Homo sapiens: one gene and its partners. The protein of the gene in region 2 purifies or fractionates together with the protein of the main gene of each other region. This does not show direct contact. Each region holds a gene or a part of one and is shown on either strand. Other genes may lie near its edges. The genes, in order: ILKAP, FBH1 and MRRF.

Region 1 (2,949 bases), on a different chromosome or scaffold from region 2:
CACACCTACCTCACGTGGGAAGCAGAATTTCCGGGCCATGCTGAGCAGCCGGCTGCCTGCTCCAACAGGAAGGTGCACACCTACACCCAGGGAGTCCAGATGGAAGCCACTGAACCGAGTCCTCCACAGACTCCTTCCACCAGACTGCAGCTCTCACCAATGGAATGAGAATGGCTAATTCTGTACTGTTTCTGGCAGGTCTGATGCATGAGTAACCTTGTCTATGAGTCTATTTCCTGGCTAAGCCTGAGCTCATGCTATGTAACATTTTGCAACACTATTTCCATAGGGAAAACTGAAAAGAGCTAGAGGGTTCCCAAAGCCCTGGTCTGGGCCTAGCCTTGACTAACCAGTCATCCCCTGGGTCTCTTCATTGCAACATGCCACTTCCCCAACCAGGGTCATCATGACAGTGAAAGCACAGCAAAATGCCCGTGAACTACAAAACATCACACAACCAGCAGCCTGCAGGCCACTACGAGCCAGTCCAAGATGCCTATAATGGTTTTAACAAGGAAAGACAGCATATTCAAAAGCAAACACAATCTCTGAAGGGTCAAGAGGTGCTCACAGTATAATAACTCAAAAGACTAGGAAAAAAAAAGAGAAACCTTTATTTACAACCATGGGAGTCCCACAGGAGTACACAAAACACACAATGTGCACACACACAAAATGAACCTTTTAAGTCAATACCATGCGTGCTCCTGGCCGCGCGCCACCCCTCAGTGCCCTATCCGCACCACCATCACAGTGACGTTGTCGGCCGAGCCCCGCTGCACCGCCTTGTTGGCCAGCCTGTTGCAGGCTGCTTCGTAGCGGGCGTCGGCTGCGGACTTCCCTTCCCGGGTCTGGATCTTTTCATCCTACCAGATGAGAAAGGGAATGAGTGAATGGAGTGACCCCGCACCCTGTCACTTTCCTGAGACATGACTGCCAGGAAGAAGAGCTGCTCTGGTCTCCATCAGGGCTGGCAGGACAAACTGACCAGTGAGTCAGTAGGCAGAGTTCACACTGAAAAAGGGCACAAGGGCTGTCCCACAATGGGAGGAAATGGGGTCTCAGAACTTCTACTTCTCTGAAAACTAAGACACAATTGGGACAACCACCACCCCCGTGTGAGATTTCTCACCTCGAGACAGGACAAGATGAAGTTCACGGCTTCTTCTGGGGTAAAGACCTTGAAGAGCCCATCACAGGCCAACAAAATGAACCTACAACACCAGGGAGAAATATAAACGGGTTTTAGGCCCAACCAAAAAATAAAAAATAAAAAAAGGGCCTGGAGATGGAGATAAAATAAATATTTGTCCAACTATTCAAAGGCTAAGGTTTTTTTTTTCTTTTTTCTTTTTTTTTTTTTTTTGAGATGGAGTTTCACTCTTGTTGCCCAGGCTGGAGTGCAATGACGCAATCTTGGCTCACTGCAACCTCCACCTTCCCAGTTTAAGCTGTTCTCCTGCCTCAGCCTCCTGAGTAGCTGGGATTACAGGTGCCCGGCACCACGCCCGGGTAATTTTTTGTATTTTTAGTAGAGACAGGGTTTCACCACGTTGGCCAGGCTGGTCTCAAACTCCTAACCTCAGGTGATTCACCTGCCTCAGCCTCCCAAAGTGCTGGGATTACAGGCATGAGCCACAGCGCCTGGCCAGGCTAAGATTTGTTTAAACCCACTTAATTTCTGAGACAAAGGTTTAAACTACTTACAAGTATTTGTGGATAGGATGTTATACATCAAAACTGAGACTATCCTTCTCTTCGCCAATTAACAGAATTATTAATTACCTCAAACATTAGGTGCTGTACTTTCTTAGGCAAACTCCAGAAAAATCACTGAATAAAAACATGGGTGTTATGGTAAATATACAAGAATTTATAACACCATAGGCCTTACACCACTTCCAGACATAAAGCTGAGAATGAGCCCAGCCTCGGTGAAACATCCTTGGGCACACACTGCACAGCTTGGGGCTGCATCCAAGACCGAGGCCCAAGAAGGGGCAGCTGTGCGTGTTCCTGTGTTTGAAAACCACATGCTCTCCCTTTCAGAATCAAACCCCCCTAGACCGTCCCTGGAATCTTTCTGAACACCAATGGATTCAATGTGACAGTTCTAGTTTTCCTGGCATTGGGGGTGGGGAATACGCATCCCCACAGCTTTGCGGTATAAGCCACCCTCCTTTTCTCACTGTAATATCTGTGGGGTTTTTTTGTGTTTTTTTTTCTTTGTTTTTTGTTGCTGCTGCTGCTGTTGTTGTTGAGGCGGACTTTCCCTCTTGTTGCCCAGGCTGGAGAGCAATGGCATGATCTCGCTCACTGTAACCTCCGCCTCCCAGGTTCAAGTGATTCTCCTGCCTCAGCCTCCTGAGTAGCTGGGATTACAGGCGCCCACCACCACGCCTGGCTAATTTTTGTATTTTTGGTAGAGATGAGGTTTTGCCATGTTGGCCAGGCTGGCCTCAAACTCCTGACCACAGGTGATCCACCTGCCTCCGCCTCCCAAAGTGTTGGGATTACAGGCGTGAGCCACCACACCCAGCCTGTTTTCCTCGTTTAACTAGGCTTTCACTCGGCCGCTACTTGCCGAGCCTATCGTCCATGCTGAGAACACCGTGGGGCCTAGTCCTGGCAGGCTCCCACCCCTTCCAGTGTCCTGAGACTCAGACCCTCAATAACCAATCACACAGACCCATGACTACAACCCAGGAAGGCGAGCTAGGAAGCAAAGCAGAAGGTGCATCCTTCAGAACACCAGAGGCGGCGGCTGCTGGAGAGATGATGGAGGACCCCGCGGTACGTGAGAACATGACAAACACACTGAAGAAGATGTGGAGAATGGGGCAGTGGCTCAAGACAAGGCCAAGCAGGCGAGTGCCAAAGCAAGGCACGCGCTCTTCATCCGCAGCACTGGGGCGGGACTCAGAGCAGCACTCGGAGGCCCACTCGCCA
Region 2 (3,006 bases):
TCTGATCCTGTAGGCCTGGTGTGGGGACTGAACATTTTTATTTCTAACAAGTTCCCAGGTGATGTTGCCGCTGCTTGCTGGAACCACACTTTGAGAACCACTGATCTTCGCATCCGTTCCCTCCTCACCAGGCCCCACAGGCGCTGTGGTCCAGCCCATCTGGGGTCATTTCTTGCTGAGATTATGATCCTGTTAGCCTTGTAATTTATCTGACCTCCTTAAAACATTATTGTTATTTGAGACAGTGTCCCGCTGTCACCCAGGCTGGAGTACAGTGAGCTGTGAGGTGACCACGGCTCACAGCCTCAACCTTGGGCTCCAGCAGTCCTCCTGCCTTGGCTGGATTCAGTGCTGGGGTTACAGGTGTGAGCCACTGCTCCCGGCCAAAGTCTCATTTTTGATGCCTCAGTTCCCACCCAAGACATCACGTCTCATACTCTGCTTCCTGTGTCTTGTGAACAGTGACAGTGCTGTAGGAAAGAGTAAGCTGGAAAAAGAGAAGGTTCAGAACGACAGTGCTGACGCAGACATCACACAGCGGTATGCCAGTGCTATGGTGCCTGTTTAATTGAAATCTTGTAATAAAAGTTTAAATACATAAATTTTTTTTTTTTTTTTTATCAAAAGAACATCCCCCACTTCCCTGACCAGATACATCCAGAGGGGAGGCAAGTGGAGACTGGCTGTCTGTAGGGAGTGGAGAAATGGCAGGTCCAGCTTGGGCTGGTGTCCTCTTCCTCAGAAAGTGCTGTGGGTGAACCCAGAGTCTCAGGGAGCAGAAGCCCCCCTCGCTGGCTTTCTTCACGCGGGGTCCTCGGCAAGCTGCTCTGCACTGCGGAGAACGTGCGCCTTGTCCTCAGAAGACGAGGAAGAGCAGGGCCTCATGCCGGGGCAGTACGATGTTCTCCACAGTGCGCTCCATGGCGCGCACCTGCTCCGGGGAGGCTGTCAGGAACGCCAGGGGCCCGATGCGCTGCTCCGCACAGGAGTGGCAGAGGTAGCCCCCCTTGTTTTCCTTCCTGTTGCTCTGTGGTGATGGACAAGAGAGAGAGCTAAGGGGAACAACCAAAGAACATGGATTTTCCAGCAAAAAGCATGGAGTTATCATCACAGCTGCCCAGGGACAACGCATTTGGATTCTGATGTTTTCAGAGGGGTGCACATCCTCAGAGTAACACCTCCCACAGCACCACCAACTAGGTGGCCTCAACACCCCCAAATTCCCTGAGCTCAGAAACAGTCATTTATCCAGTCAAGATAAAGAACCAAGAAAAGCTGCGCTGGGACCCCAGGGAACAGCTCTCTCTCTAAGCGTGTATCACAACCCAGCCTCCCAGACCTGCGGCTTCAGCACAGCCAGGCAGCATCACGTGCCCTGACCTCTGACCCTGGGACAGACCACACACCTCTTGTGCCTCTCATATGAAAAGCCCCTAATAAAGGATCACACAGCTCTCTCTTATCTCCTCACCTACAACCCAGATAAGCACAGAGCTCACAAGCAAAAAATGCAAATGGCTGAATTAAGTTCCACAGACAGCAGACGTACATAGGTGATGGGCAGCTTCTTCATGGTAAGGACGGTGTCAACAGGGATGGCATTGTTGCACTGTCCCACGCAGCAGCGCACCACGCCTGTTTTTAAGACGTTGCTTGTCAGCTCTGCTTGCAAGAAGTACTCCTGAGAAAGAAAGAGCGAGAAAGAGAGTCATGGCGACACCTCCGTTAGGGTCTACTGGAAACACTGATAGCGGCGGCTCTGTGAGAACCCTTTAGATGCACTGTAAGTCCCAGAGAGAAAAACCCCGCCTAACCCGTTCTCCCTTACTTCCTCTAACTTTTCCCTGCCTCCAAAGCTATCGACAGTCCAACTGACAGTCCAATTGCTTTTTAAATATATATATATTTAACAGATAAACATGCAAAACTATTGCCTGTAATGACATTTCCAGAATATTTCTGGATTTTATTTTATGCTAAGGTATCCCCAGCTCAATCTTCAGAAAACTATTGTGTATTCACATTATAAGCCAGGCAGGCAACACAGAGGACATGAAGAAAACTTGCCCCAAACATCCCTGCGTATTTCCACCGTCCCGTGCTGCTGGCTGTGCTAGTGAGCAAATGACAGCCTCGCTAAGCCTGTGTCTTTATCCATAAATGCAGATGGCACGGTGCCTGCTTCAGGTGGCTGCTGAGGAGAAGAAACCCTTCAATGCATGCAAAGCACTCACGCCTGGCACGCAGGGAGCACCCAGAGGAAGCACTAGTGACCTCCCAGGCTGGAAACACCACAAGGACAGGGCACTGTCAGCTTCGCTGCTGCCCTGTGGGGCTCCACATCACAGACTGATATGCTAGCAGGACCGCACACATCTGCTGCCCAGGAAAGGACGGTTTCGTATTTTCTGGATTATGACCAGCTATTGATCTACTTATTCTACAATCTGTAACCTACGTTTTGATTTATTTGGTCTTTTCTCTTAGACGGCCTGCCTACCAGCTATGAAAAAGAACAGAAAACCACCAGGCAAACACTCCAGTTATGGCCAACAAGTACTAACAGCTGACGAGGTGAAATCCTGTCTGAAGTCACAGATTTTGCTGAAGTCCCTTGGACTGTCATCTCAATTTCCTTCCCGAGAGACAGCCAAGACCATGAACCTGGCGAGGTCCCTCCAACCCACGGTGAAATAGCTTCTCGTTTACACGTGTCCAAGGACACAGGTCTCCTTTTATAGATGTCTAATTTACATGAATGTTACGCTTCTGGCTTCCTCCTCACCTAGGTTTTCTAAAATGCTGTAGAGGACTCAGTCACAGCGCTCTCTTGTATTTCATTTACCCATTCCCTTGCTGTGGTTACTCGGTTGTTTCCAAACTATTTCCAACAATGCAGCAATGAACATCCTGTACCTGACTCCCTGTCCACTCCAGAAGTTTCTCCAGGGCTAGGCTCTCAAGCCGTTTTTGACGCAGTTACCATTATAATGCTATACATACGCA
Region 3 (3,655 bases), on a different chromosome or scaffold from region 2:
ATGATTCCTTATGCTGAATACACAGACACTACTACATTGCTGGCAATAGTACCTGTTTCTCTATTAGCCTAATGGTGTCCTCTGAGACTGTATCCTTGGATTTCTTCAGCTTGTTCATTGAGTTGGTGCGAACCTTCCGTAAAGAGTCTTTGGCCTTGTTGGTGTTCTGTTTGGCCAGTTTCACCAGCATTTCTCTGTGCTCTCTGGTTACTCTGATAAAAGACAAAAGACATTCAACAAAATCATTCTATACATTAACTGCTGGCCAAGAATTTAACATCACTCTGTCAACCAGTTCAGCAGTTTGTAACTTTCCTCTCTGTGGGCTGAACTCCTGGAATTTCCAGGAGGAGGAAAACGCATGTATAAAGGCTTTAAGTTGCCCAAACATGGGCAAACTGGGTTTGACTTTGTAGAAGGTACCAAACTTCCCAGTGAGAGAACTGGGATTCAAATCCCAATATTTCTGGCCTGTATTCTTTCTGCTACTCTTCTAATCTATTTCAAGTAAATCATGCACTGCTGCCATTACTTCTGCTTCCAGGCAGAAAGCTCTTCACAGTCAGTAATATGAAGCTTGGGACTGAAAAGGACAAAACCATCAAGAGCCCATGCTTCATTTAAGGAATTGGCTGGAGCACTGATAACAAAGAAAGGAGTGACAAGAAAAGAGGCTGGGAAGCCATATCACAGACAGTCTTGCAAGGTCACGAACCACGTTTTACAGATGAAGAAAATGAGGCCCAAAGAAATTTGGTACCTTATACAAAGTCAGACCCAGTCAAACCCAAGCTGGCCTGTCACAAAAGCCAATGGTCTTAGTATGACAGCATTCCTCTGCCCCCTGGGTCCTGAAATGGACATGCTTATGCTTCCTTACTCTCAAATCAACACGGTTCTTGCTCAAGGAAGGACAATCCTAAGTTCTGGGTACATGTTCAGTGTGGAATAGTGATGAGCAGCTGTTAAAGATTTAGTAACATCTACCTTACATTTTCTCTGCTGAGAAAAAAAATTAAAGAATTTTGAGAAAGAATAAGCTCTGAAGTGAACAGTTGTATTTACGTAAATCCTTTTGGATTCAGCTATTTGAAGGTATTCTCAAAACAACAATGAGTCTAATTACTACTATTATTAAACCGTTCTATGCCACATGAGTACTTTAAGTGTGTTACTTCATTGAATCCTCACAACTCTTCAAATGAGGAAACAGGCTCACAGATGTTAAGTGACTTGCCCATGAGCATGAGTGAGAGAACTGGGATTCAAACCCCGATCTTTCTGGCCTGTATTCTTTTTACTCTTGTAATCTATTTCAAGTAAATTATGCACTGCTGCCATTACTTCTGCTTCCAGGCAGAAAGCTCTTCAAAGTCAGTAATATGAAGCTTGGGACTAAAAAGCACAAAACCACCATGTCAGGAGTTTAGGGATTTGGATCAGATCTTGTTACTTTTATGGTTTTTAATTCATTGAACAAAAATCATGCTGACATGTTTAGGTCTCTTTTTTGTTCTGCCAAAGCATATGTCAGTATAAGGAAGGAACAGGAAAATTAAAACTTGATCCACTGATTCAAGAACTTAATCCTGCTGAAATACTAAGAGGGGCAGAAAATAAATGAATCTAAGTCTTTAAGAAACCTCATAAACTTCTCCAAAAAGAACATACTGAAGTATTTCAATATTGCATTTCACATAATTTCAAATAGGTATCTCACTGTTTAGAAAATGCTTAATCAAAGAAAAAAAATTATCTGATCAACTTTTCTTTTCACTACAATGTTATATTTTAAATGGAGGAAAAAACATACATTAAAAAATATAAAATGAGACTCAAAAAAATCTTAAGAATTAAAGGCTACAGAAAGAAAACAAAATCATAATATAGGTAATTTGGCCTTAATAAAATGTATTACTTTGTATTTATTAATGCAAATGTGACATTACCACACTATTAACACCAGTTTCCACATGTAATCGTGTCCAATCACTGACATTGTCAAAAATATTTCCATTTCAGGATGCAAAGAGGCAATAATCAAAAAGATACTACAAGGAAATGGAGAGTGGAGTGCAGTGAGAAGGGAGAAAGGGAGGGAGGAAGACAAACCATGCTGGACACAGGGAGGGCTGAGGGGGAGAAGGGCATGTGTGTGCTGGTTCAGGGTACTGAGCTGAAAGGTATCTAAAATACAAGATCAGAAGCAGTTAGGGTGATGGCAAGGCACTGGTTTTGAAGTCAGACAGACTAGGTTCATACCTGTATCTATTGCTCAGAAGCTGACTATCCTTGGGCAAGTTACTTAATCTCTGTGAGCCTCAGTTTCCTTATCTCTAAAATGAAGATTTAAAAAGACACCTTACAGGAGGATTAGGAGAAGCAGACACAACAGATAAAGTACCAATAAAGAGAGCAGCATATATAGTAGCCTTGAATAAATGATAGTGTTTATGAATGTTTTAATCAAACATGTTTAATTACTTCCTCATGAAACAATGAGGGCATATCTGTTTTAGAAAATAAACATATTTTATTATGGAAATATTTTCATTCTTTTCCAAATGTGATTAATACATCTGATCATCTCCACCTTGCATTCCTGGGTTTCTGTGAGTATGCACTAGAGTTTGTATTCCAGGCTTCTGAACTCAGCTGGTTAGTTCTGAGTACCCACTTTAAGTTGATGTGCATTCACCCATCAAGCACTGACTGAGCCTCCTACGCTCTGTGCCAGTTCTTGGGCCAGACCAAGGAGCTCCAGAAGAGGCAGACCTGGCCCACCTTTTCCAGAGGCTCAGACTAGTGGTGGAGACAAACTTGTCAGCCACTACGTAGAAAGAGGATGACTGTTGCTAGTATCTACTGCGGAAGGAGCATACAGAAAACACAACACTTCTATCTTGAGATTTGGAAACCGCCTTATGGATGCACAGTAACTTGTTAGCTGCAGAAGAATGCAAAGTGCATTTTGGGAAGCACAGTGGGAGATGTAGTGGAGGGACAGCATGAAGCTGAAAAGGGTACATCCCAGTCAAATATACTCTACAGGCCTGGAGTTTTCAAATTCTTCTTTAGCCACAAACCCCTGGCTCCAAAGAAAACTGAGGCAGAGGCCCCATTTGCAAAACAGATAAAAAGAGACTACTTCAGTTGATGAGGAGGAGCGGTGGGCTCTATCCCAGGCTACAAAACTCAGATCCGACCCCACTTCTGGGCCTGCCACTTACAAGCTGAGTGACCCTATGCAAGTTATTTAAACCGTCTGAGCCTTGCTCTTCTCATTTGGAAACAGAAATTAAAAACAAACAAATGAAACAGAACCTCCCTTTCAGAGTTATTGTGAGATTTAGATGAGGTAATACATGGGAAGCATCCAGTACAAGGCCTGATAGAGAATAAACACTCAGGAAATGTAAACTGTCTCTGCTGCTGTTGTTGGTTACATTTTTGGAAGCCCTGAAGCATCTTCAAATAATGAAAGTTTTTAATCAACAGAGGAATGACAGAGCAAAGATCTATGCTATGGCAAGATGACTTTTTGAGATCTCACTGGTAATTTAACATCTCACAGACATTTTAAAATCCAAACGCTCTCAGCATGTAGCCCTGAAATTTTCTCTTTTCAGGATTCATTCATTCAATCTATAGCTTC

The links.
Region 1: the proteins of FBH1 (region 2) and ILKAP purify together in Homo sapiens (affinity purification with mass spectrometry; one large-scale study listed by BioGRID and IntAct). This does not show direct contact.
Region 3: the proteins of FBH1 (region 2) and MRRF purify together in Homo sapiens (affinity purification with mass spectrometry; one large-scale study listed by BioGRID and IntAct). This does not show direct contact.

The regions. Positions count from the first base shown.
Region 1 is NC_000002.12:238,169,811-238,172,759, forward strand, and holds the end of ILKAP (integrin-linked kinase-associated serine/threonine phosphatase 2C), read right to left. Parts: intron 1,215-2,949; coding exon 1,133-1,214; intron 867-1,132; coding exon 726-866; 3' UTR 592-725; downstream 1-591. UniProt on the Homo sapiens protein: Protein phosphatase that may play a role in regulation of cell cycle progression via dephosphorylation of its substrates whose appropriate phosphorylation states might be crucial for cell proliferation.
Region 2 is NC_000010.11:5,935,131-5,938,136, reverse strand, and holds the end of FBH1 (F-box DNA helicase 1), read right to left. Parts: intron 1,682-3,006; coding exon 1,550-1,681; intron 1,087-1,549; exon of another isoform or gene 1,028-1,086; coding exon 857-1,027; 3' UTR 544-856; downstream 1-543. UniProt on the Homo sapiens protein: 3'-5' DNA helicase and substrate-recognition component of the SCF(FBH1) E3 ubiquitin ligase complex that plays a key role in response to stalled/damaged replication forks.
Region 3 is NC_000009.12:122,309,784-122,313,438, reverse strand, and holds part of MRRF (ribosome-recycling factor, mitochondrial isoform 1 precursor), read right to left. Parts: intron 213-3,655; coding exon 53-212; intron 1-52. UniProt on the Homo sapiens protein: Responsible for the disassembly of ribosomes from messenger RNA at the termination of mitochondrial protein biosynthesis. Acts in collaboration with GFM2. Promotes mitochondrial ribosome recycling by dissolution of intersubunit contacts.